Linked DNA regions of Homo sapiens. The protein of the gene in region 2 interacts with the protein of the main gene of each other region in a biochemical or structural test. Each region holds a gene or a part of one and is shown on either strand. Other genes may lie near its edges.

Region 1 (3,658 bases), on a different chromosome or scaffold from region 2:
GATGTGAGTATAGAGGATCTGATGTCTTTGTGAATTGGATATTGTTGCAACTCCTGGGTTAGAGAAAAAAAATTAATAGTTGATGTAGGTTCAAACAAATACACACCCACATCCATCTACCACAAGAATAGAAGTTTGCATGAAGGTATAATTACTGATTAGAGCTTTTTCCCAAATCCCCAGCGAAAAGTATTATCATCCCCTGAACCTCCATAGCACTACTTTCAGTATTTCTGTTGAAATCTTTAATACTGTGTTTTGCAGATGATAAATATGTATAAGACTTTCTCATCTCCCTGACCCCCTAAGTACTCTTTGAAGGCTGGGCTAATGTTCATTTCATATCTGCACCCCTATAATACCTTGAACAAAGTAAGTCCTTATAAAATTTTCTGGAATAAATGACTTCTCTTTGAGAAACTTTTCCCAACTTGCTATTTAAAGAGTTCTAAATAACAGATAAGGTTTGAATCAGACATCTAATTTGTCTTAAGCTAAAATATTGCCACAAAGATCTTGGAAGTCTGATGATCACAGTAACATTTTAAATGCAAAATATCTAATAAACCAGCAAGTTTCTGGGAAAGCTTTGGTCAAAATGGTTACCACTTTTCATGAGAGACCTATTTTTGTTAGCAAAGAATTTGAATTTGGATGATGGCTATGTTAAAGGTAGTTAAATGGGTTCAGCTAGATAAATAAAACAGGTTCAAATTATTTGGATTTGATTTTAAACTTATTTACAACACCAGTAGTTAATGGCTGTTTTACTTCAACAAACTCTCTAGCTGTTATTAGTTTACAATATCAAAAAAGGAGCCTTCAAACCCAAAGGCAACAATTAAGACCCCAAGACAATCTTAGAAGGAGCAGTAAAGACACCAGAGGCCAGCTTCTTTACAGCACTAATCAAATGCGTTAGGTCAGAGACACTATCCCTAACTCCAGAGTAGATAAATCATTTTAATTTATGGGATAAATTCTTTTTAATTTTATCAATTTAGCCTGTGAATGTGCCCTATTTAAATTTCAAACATAGAAGGAAACCTAAACCTTTTGTTCAACTCTATGTCAGTGGCAGTGAGCTGAGATTGAACCTTATCAAAGTGATATGTTTTTCTATTTATGTAGTCTTCTCTGAAGATGCGGAATAAGTTGGTTATGAAAGTTTTCTTGACTTCCAGAAGTTACCAAAGCATGCTGATATACTGGATGTGTTCTGAGTAACATAGTATTACCCTTCTCTCTAGGAATCCAGAAAACAATACCTGGCTTAATCTTTAACATAAAGATGTAAAACATACTTCTAGAAGTGCAAGTGATGCGTCCGCTGCCTTCTCCCAGGCAAGTACAATCTACCATCATCCAGCCTTGGTAGGGCTTCTCCCACGTTTCTCCGACCACATAGGAAGTCCCAGCAGCATGATCAAAACACTTCTCAGCTGTAGGGAAATTTGGAAGAAAAACAGGAAAAAAAGGTTATTTTGAATTGTGCAAGCTCCCTGTAATTTAAAGTGTAGTGTGTAAGCAAAAATTCAGCCACATTTTTTTTAAGTGGCACTCTGTTCAGAAAGAATGACACACCCAGCATCTAAGCACACAGTAAGTAGCCAAGGCAAAAGAAAGCTCAAGCTGAGTTGGCAGGCAGAAATTCCATTCTCCTAATAAGTACATGGACTACATATTTTCAGCGAGCCCCAAACTTCCCAGCAGCATTTCCAGTAGCAAGGATCTATGTATGTATCTAGTCTGTGGGAGACTACATATGCAAAATTCCAATCTTAATTATAAATGACCAATTATGAATTTTGAGTGGCCTAAATACAATGACAAAGAAAGCTATTTTTAAATATTGGAAAGCAAAACAATACAAAACAAGACAAAAACCTCTAAATTAGAAGACAAGTAAACAGAGTAAAATTTATAGCCAGAAACTTTCAGGCTTGTACTTACAAAATTCAACTGAGGATTGAGATCCAAAGAAGCTCAACAACTTTTAATTTGAAAAGAAATGAGCAGAGTGTGACAAGCACACACTATTTCATGTTTCGGTCCAGGACATTCCATATAGAAATGTGTCCAAAGTGTCATTTTTTTTTCTTTTAAATAAATTATATCTTGACGAAGGAGGAATCTGAGATCAGCTATTAGGTAAAAGAAATGACTCCATTCTAAATCTTTCAATTCTACCTTATGCTTTTGAAGCAAAGTTAAGACTTCTATGTGTAGTCAGTACTTTTTGATCTAACTCCTGTAAGAAGACTATGGATTATATAATAATTCATTATTTCAAACAAAATTCCCATTTCTTTATTGGTTTTCACTGGAATTCAGGTCTATGACCTATGTAGATGTGATTCTGGTCCAACCCCACATTAGAACTAAGCATCCCAGCTCTTGCTCAGCCCTAAGACTCACACACCTATGGGCTTGCAGGTCCATTCTCCTTTTCCATTACCAAGACACACACACTCTAACATGTAACCACCAGTCTCATGTGGTCTCCTCCAGGTGTCACCAATCTTGTAGGACTGACCCCCTTCATGGCAGCGGTCTGTTGAAGATACAACGAAAATGTTAGGAGAGGGCAGAACAGATTTTTTTTTTTGGTCTCATATTCCACCCATGGTAGGTACTTAGGTTGGCTAAAGTAGAGACACAGACAACAGCTTTCCCATCAGAGACAGGGGAAACGTTAACAGGTCTGGTCACTTGGAGTCAATTCAGTTAAGTGTCTTGCTTAGAACACAATGGAAAACCACAGAGAAATCTGGATGGCAAGGAAGAGGTCATGAATCCTGCTTTCCCAGAGAGATCACAGGAAATTGGGTCCTAAGCAGAAAAGAAAGGCTGGGAGGCTTGGTCTTCACTCATACACAGCAGGCTAAGACTGAGACTAATTCAGTGAAAAGGCCACATCAGGCACAGCACTCCAGCTTTTGGGAGCATGGAGAGCCTGTATTTTACCCTAGGATAGAAATGTCATTTTGGTGGAAAGCAAACAGACATATGCATATAAAGTGTGGAAATCCTGGTAGTTTTCTAAGTTGTTAAGCCCAATGGCACATTCAAATGCTGAACTAGATTGTAAACACTATGGACCCTTGCCTCTTGCGATTTGCCTGTGAACTTGGATAAACCCTAACATGAAATATGGGGAAAGTTGATTGGGCCTATTCACACGGGACTTGTTCTTTTGAATAGAAGTCTTTAAGACGACTTATATTTAAAGAATGGATTAAAAAACTTAAATACTATCTTAATAGAATCTATTGGTAACCCAGTGAATCATACTGGAAAGAGTGCCTTAGCTAAACTAGAGTTGAGAATCAGCCCGGTTCCCAAAGTTCCTTAGCAAACTCTATTGGGTTAATAATTTTGTATTATCCCTAGGAATAGTGACATCTGCTTCCTGGGTATAACCTACTGGTCACCAAGAAACCAGACTGTTTCTGTGAGGTGCAAGAGGTCTCTGCATTGCAAACATGAAGACCAGACAACACATGGCTGGTTCACTCTTCATGAACACCTTCCCAGTCACTGCAGAAAAGTCTCATGATTTGTCTAGCTTGAAGATATCCAGGTGATTTAAAATGGGCAACTCCCCTAAGCATGTCTTACTGAAATGGAACCCAAGAGGTCTCTTGGTTCTACTATG
Region 2 (3,658 bases):
CCCAGGCTAGGCACGGTGGCTCATGCCTGTAATCCTAGCACTTTGGGAGGCCGAGGTGGGCGGATCACCTGAGGTCAGGAGTTCAAGACCAGCCTGGCCAACATGGTGAAACCTTGTCTCTACTAAAGATACAAAAATTAGTCAGATACGGTAGCGCGTGCCTGTAGTCCCAGCTACTCGGGAGGCTGAGGCAGGAGAATCGCTTGAACTCGGGAGGTGGAGGTTGCAATGAGCCGAGATCGTGCCACTGCACTATAGCCTAGGTGACAGAGTGAGACTCTGTCTCAGAGAAAAAAAAAAAAAAAAAAAGACAACCAACCCAATTAAAAATGGGCAAAAACTTAAATAGACACTTCCCCAAAGAAGATATACAAATGGCTTACAAGCACATAAAAAGGTGTGATACATCACTCGTCATCAAGCAAACACAAAGTACCATGAGATACCACTTCATACCCATAAAGGTGGCTGGAATTTTCTTAAGGGGAAAATAAAAAGTGTCCCCAAAGATGTGGAGAAATTAGAATCCTCATACGTTGCTAGTGGAAATGTAAAATACTACAGCCACTGTGAAAAACAATTTGGTGATTCCTCAAAAAGCTAAACATAGAATTACTATATGACCCAGCAACCCCCCTCCTAAGTATATACCCCCCCAAAATTGAAACACATTGAAACAGGTGTTCAAACAAAACTTTTACATGAATGTTCATAGCAGTATTATTCATAATACTCAAAGGGTGGAAACAACCCAAATGTCTGTCAACTATAAATGGATTAACAAAATACGGTATGCCCATACAATAGAATATTATTCGGCCATAAAAAGTAACGAGATACTGACACATGGTGAGGCTTAAAAACATTAGGGGAGCACCGTGGCTCCCGCCTGTAATCCCAGCACTTTGGGAGGCCAAGGTGGGCGGATCACGAGGTCAAGAGATCGAGACCATCCTGGCCAACATGGTGAAACCCCGTCTCTACTAAAAATACAAAAATTAGCTGGGTATTGTGGCGCACGCCTGTAGTTCCAGCTACTTGGGAGGATGAGGCAGGAGAATCGCTTGAACCTGGGAGACGGAGGTTGCAGTGAGCCGAGATGGCGCCACTGCACTCCAGCCTGGTGACAGAGCAAGATTCCGTCTCAAAACAAAACAAAACAAAGAAACAACAACAAAAAAACCATTAAGGGAAGTGAAAAAAGCCAGACCAAAAAAAAAAAAAAAAAACCACATATTATATGATTCTATTTACACAAATTATACAAAATTGGCAATATAGAGACAGAAACTAGATTAGTGGCTGTTTAAGGCTGGGAGGATAGGCGGTGGTGGCTAACGGATATGGACTTCTCTTTGTGTTGATGAAAACATTTTAAAGTTGACTGGGGTGATATTTGCACATATCTGTGAATATACTGAAATCCATTGACTTGTACATTTTAATGGGTGAATTGGATGATATGCAAATTATATCTCAATAAAGTCTTTTAAAAAAGAATCTACTTCGATGACACTTGAAAGTGTCATGCAGGCAGCCTGGGGGTGGTTGCCAGGCATCAAAATATTACTCTTGACTGAAGACTTTATTATTATTATTTTATTATTTTTGGAGGCAGAGTCTTACTCTGTCGCCCAGGCTGGAGCACAGTGGCACAATCCTGGCTCACCGTAACCTCCGCCTCAGCCTCCTGAGTAGCTGGGATTACAGGCGTGCACCACCATGACTGGCTAATTTTTGTAATTTTAGTAGAGATGGGGTTTTACCCTGTTGCCCAGGCTGGTCTCGAACTCCCGAGCTCAGGCAATCCCCCAACCTTGGCCTCCCAGAGTACTAGAATTACAGGTGTGAGCCACTGTGCCTGGCCTTATTTCTAAATACACACATAAACTCTTAGAGTCACTGATAAATCGTTCTACTTAAGAAGAGAGAGAAGTCTGGGCACGGTGGCTTACACCTGTAATTCCAGCACTTTGGGAGGCTGCGGCAGGATCCTGAGGTCGGGAGTTCGGGAGCAGCCTGACCAACATGGAGAAACCCTGTCTCTACTAAAAATACAAAATTAGCAGGGTGTGGTGGCACATGCCTGTAATCCCAGCTACTCGGGAGGCTGAGGCAAGAGAATCGCTTGAACCCAGGAGGTGGAGGTTGCGGTCAGCCAAATCGTGCCATTGCATTACAGCCTGGACAACAAGAGCAAAACTCAGTCTCAAAAACAAACAAACAAACAAACAAACAAACAAACAAAAAAACGAGAGAGAGATCAGGTGGGAAGGGAAGGAGGGAGGAAGGAAATGAGGAGGGCAGGCAGGATACGGCCAAAGAATGGGCTTAGACTTGTGCTCCAGCAGAAGCTGCCAGAAAGGCAGGAGTTCTCCAGGTGGATTTGAACCCTACAATGGCCAAGGGGCAGCCTGGAATGATCCTAGTGGTGATACCCTAACACAGCTACAATTGCAAATCTCAACAGGTTGTACTCCCATCCCTAGACGTTTTAAGGAAAGGAGCTACTTAAATCTCATAACTAATCTGTGATTATAAACTGACTCTTTCAAATCACAGATTATTAACTGTGTTCTTTCAAATATCTCTTCCAAACCCCCTCATGGTAGAGAAAATCAATATCCAGTCCCAAGATCTTGAGGTGTAATTGAAGCAGCCATGTTTGGGCATGAAACGTATTTGAAATCTCCTGCTTTGCCTTTAAATTCATGCATTCTTGCTAATGTTCTATTCTTGATGTAGTAGCAAGGGCATGTTCACTTTGTAAAAGTTCATCCATAACAGGCATTTGTACACCAATGTTCACAGCAGCATTATTCCCAGTCACCAAAAGGTGGAAACAACTCACATGTCCACCAGTGGAGGAGGAGATAAACAAATGTGGTCTATCCATACAGTGGGATATTATTCAGGCTCAACAAGGAAGGAAATTCTGACACAGGTTACAACGTGAAAAAACCTGGAAGCCATGCTAAGTAAAATGAGCCAGACACGAAAAGACAAATATAATATATTCCACTTATATGAAGTACCTAGTTCAGTCATAGTCACAGAGACAGAAAGTAGAATGGGGGCTGCCAGGGATTGGTCGGAGGGGGAGAGTGGAGTTAGTGTTCAATGGGTACAGAGTTTCTGTTTTGGAAGATGCAAAAGTACCAGAGATGGCTGATGGTGATGGTAGCACAGCAGTGTCAACACACTTAACGCCACTGCACTGTACACTTGAAAATAGTTAAGATGGTGAGTTTTATGTTACGTATATTTTACCACAATAAACACAAAAGCAACCCAAAAAGCCTATGTGGGTATATACTTAGGATCATGTGATTTTACCTAGATATGCTATTCTTGGGGTGGGTGAAATCATCTTTAGAAATATGCTTTTCCGGCCAGGCACAGTGGCTCACGCCTGTAATCCCAGCACTTTGGGAGGCCCAGGCGGGTGGATCACGAGGTCAGGAGATCGAGACCATCCTGGCTAACACGGTGAAACCCTGTATCTACTAAAAATAGAAAACATTAGCTGGGTATGGTGGCGGGCGCCTGTGGTCCCAGCTACTCAGGAGGCTGAGGCAGGAGAATGGCGTGAACTTGGGAGGCGGAGCTTGCAGTGAGCCGAGATCGCGCCACTGCACTCCCAGCCTGGGCAACAGAG
Region 3 (2,792 bases), on a different chromosome or scaffold from region 2:
AAGAAAAGGAGTTTCCGCTCCTTAAGGCGACCACAGTTTCCCTTTCAGTCTCATCCTTTGTAGACACACCTATGTCTAGTTTTAATTTTATTCATCAGGACTTCTTTTCTCATTATGAAAGTTAATCATGTTTATTGTGGACAACTTGCTTGAAACATAAATGAACTATAAATGTAAGAAAGGCACGAAGGTCTTTTTGCTGTAGGTTTTCTCTTCCTCCTGGTGCCATCCCCATCATTTTTGTGTAGAAGTCGCAAAGCTTCCTCTGTTCCCTGTTGCCAAAACTAAAAGAGTCAGTTTGGTTTTTTGGTTCACCCGAGAAAAATCTAAGGGGCCTGTTTTATTTACAATGGGAAGAAATGTGAAAATTATCTGAACTCTTTTCACTTTCCCACACCATTCCTAATTTGAGTAATAATCGGCATCTCAATAACCCTGAGAGTTGAGGTGTAATGATTTTCTAGGTTTTGGACTGGGTTGTCCTGCTATGTGGGGTGACAACAGTAAAACCACAACAAGTAAAAAGAAATCCTTTTGAATTAAAGATCAAAAAAACTAATGCAACGAGCAACAGTTTATTTATAAAAAAAGAAAAAAACAAACAACTTTTTAACGACATTTTATAGATTAAGTAAAAATACCAGTATTAATATATATGTATATACATAGTGCATATATATATATACATATGATATAACATTAACATTACATGCTTCTCAGGACAGAAGAATTAGGACATGTTCCCTCCTATCAATTTAAAACTCGATCACAATTTAAAATCATGGAAGAAAACTTGCTTCCTTTATTTTCTGCTTTTAGACTTCAAGTACAGGAAGTTATGAAACCAGGATCTAAATGTGGAAACCATCTGCTATGCACCAATTATAAGGGACTGCCACAAATGATGAGTCAGGGGTCTTCTGAATTCTTACATAGGTCTCTGTAACCCTACAACTGTGTCAACCTTCTACCTGAGATGAGAGGGAATGATGAAGCATGACAGTGTGTAGGTTTCATGTGGACGTTCACATTGACATTGGAACAAAAGCAAACGGAAAAATGTCTTCCTAGAGCAACAACACTGATCATAAAATCACCCTGGAGGAGGATTCCCTTCTCCCCTTTCCTTGCCAAACAAAACAGAAAAACTGTCAGAAAACAATACAAAACAAAACTCAGGGTGAAGCACCTCTGGCGATGATCAGCATACAGCAAGGGACAGAGAGGTAGCGTTTCCTTGGTGACAGCTCCTGGCTGACTCCGATGATTTCAAACACACCCTCTTCTGCAAAAGGCACTCACATATTGTCTGTTTATAAATCATACAGTGGGATTCCATACATGGGAGTTTCTCCTACAAATATAAAAGAGATAAGCTGAGGAAATGGTATAACAAAGAAAAGCGTATAAGAAATACACATTTTGGATAAATATGCACTTTTCTTTTTTAAAGGACAATCAATATAGTAGTTAAAAAAAATGTCATTGAAAAGTTAGGAATTCCAGCAAAATTATCAGTAAGAAGCAAGGTACTGGAGGATGAGAGATGGAGTCCAAAACACTGAGAGGAGGTACACTAGCTTTTCAAGCGGCCAAAGTAAAAGATCTGTTCTGCTCTTAAACTGCAATGACCATCCACAGACAACGGAATGAGACGGGGAGGGAGGTAGCGGCAGAGAAACAGGTCAAGCCGGAGGGAGGAGTGGCATCCCCCTGGCTGTGGGTGCAGGAAGAAACACCCTCAGCATCTCCAAAGGGAAGGATGGGCTACATCACCCCCTTGCTTCTGCAGTCCAAACAGACCCTGCCCAAGCCAGAGGCTGCCCTCACCGGGATACAACAGAGCTAATGGAATTGTAAGAGGTGCCGCTGTTGCAGCTCGAGGCATAGGCCTCCTGGCCATTGCCATCCAGGTTGATTTTGAACACAGAGGATGCCTTCAGCAAAAAGTCTGCGGCATCCCGGCGACCCAGCTCCCTCAGTTTGGACATGAGGGTGCCCACTGTGCTCTCAGGGTAGGTGGTCCATTCCCGCAGCAGGGCGTGGAGGGGGCTGGGGAGGAAATCCTTGGGAGCCCCGTTACTGGTGTTGTACTTTGCCACGAGGTCAGGGAGGCCTAAGTTCATGGCGAGAAGGCACCAGTCCTTCCCCAGGGGGTCGGGCGGGTCCAGCAGGCGACTCAGTTTCCTCCGAGTGAGGAGGTTCAGGTCTGATGCATGGATGTCCATGCCGAGGCTGGCCTGTGAGTAGACGTCGTGACACCCGAAGCACATGATGCTGCTGAAGCTTTCCTTGTACCCCCCCATGGTGTTGGTCAGTGAGGTTTCCTTCAGAGTCTGTGCCCGGAAGAAGTCCCGTGGCTGGTAGATCATGACGGGCTCATGGTGCTCCCGCAGCTGCTGGGGGCTCAGGTAATGCTTCACGGTCAGGAGCCCTGGCAGCGTGGTGGCCATGACGTTCTCAATGGTGCTGCACACCGAGTCCAGCAGCAGGCAGCACTTGATCTTCTCCGTCTCCAGGCCGCGGACCTGGACCTCAATGCCCTGGCCGTGGTTGACCAGCAGCACCAGCAGCTCGGCCCCACGGTTGGCCAGCTTGCAGCCATTCACCCACAGGCGGATGTCCGCGTCGCCCTCTGTGCTTTGCTGGTGGATCCACCGGCACAGGTTCACCTGGACCTTGTGAAAGATGCCACATGGGAAGGGGGTGAGGTGTTCCACGGGCACGATGCGCACGCCACCATACACCATCACCTCGTCCTCCTCATCAGCCCAGGAGCGGTGCAGGTTGTC

The links.
Region 1: the proteins of LOXL2 (region 2) and FN1 interact in a biophysical measurement, tested with the Homo sapiens proteins (one study listed by IntAct).
Region 3: the proteins of LOXL2 (region 2) and DAPK1 form a complex in vitro, tested with the Homo sapiens proteins (one large-scale study listed by BioGRID and IntAct).

Annotation. Positions count from the first base shown.
Region 1 is NC_000002.12:215,429,411-215,433,068, forward strand, and holds part of FN1 (fibronectin isoform 1 precursor), read right to left. Parts: intron 2,555-3,658; coding exon 2,423-2,554; intron 1,443-2,422; coding exon 1,305-1,442; intron 1-1,304. UniProt on the Homo sapiens protein: Fibronectins bind cell surfaces and various compounds including collagen, fibrin, heparin, DNA, and actin. Fibronectins are involved in cell adhesion, cell motility, opsonization, wound healing, and maintenance of cell shape.
Region 2 is NC_000008.11:23,394,107-23,397,764, forward strand, and holds part of LOXL2 (lysyl oxidase homolog 2 precursor), read right to left. Parts: intron 1-3,658. UniProt on the Homo sapiens protein: Mediates the post-translational oxidative deamination of lysine residues on target proteins leading to the formation of deaminated lysine (allysine).
Region 3 is NC_000009.12:87,706,399-87,709,190, reverse strand, and holds the end of DAPK1 (death-associated protein kinase 1), read right to left. Parts: coding exon 1,827-2,792; 3' UTR 557-1,826; downstream 1-556. UniProt on the Homo sapiens protein: Calcium/calmodulin-dependent serine/threonine kinase involved in multiple cellular signaling pathways that trigger cell survival, apoptosis, and autophagy.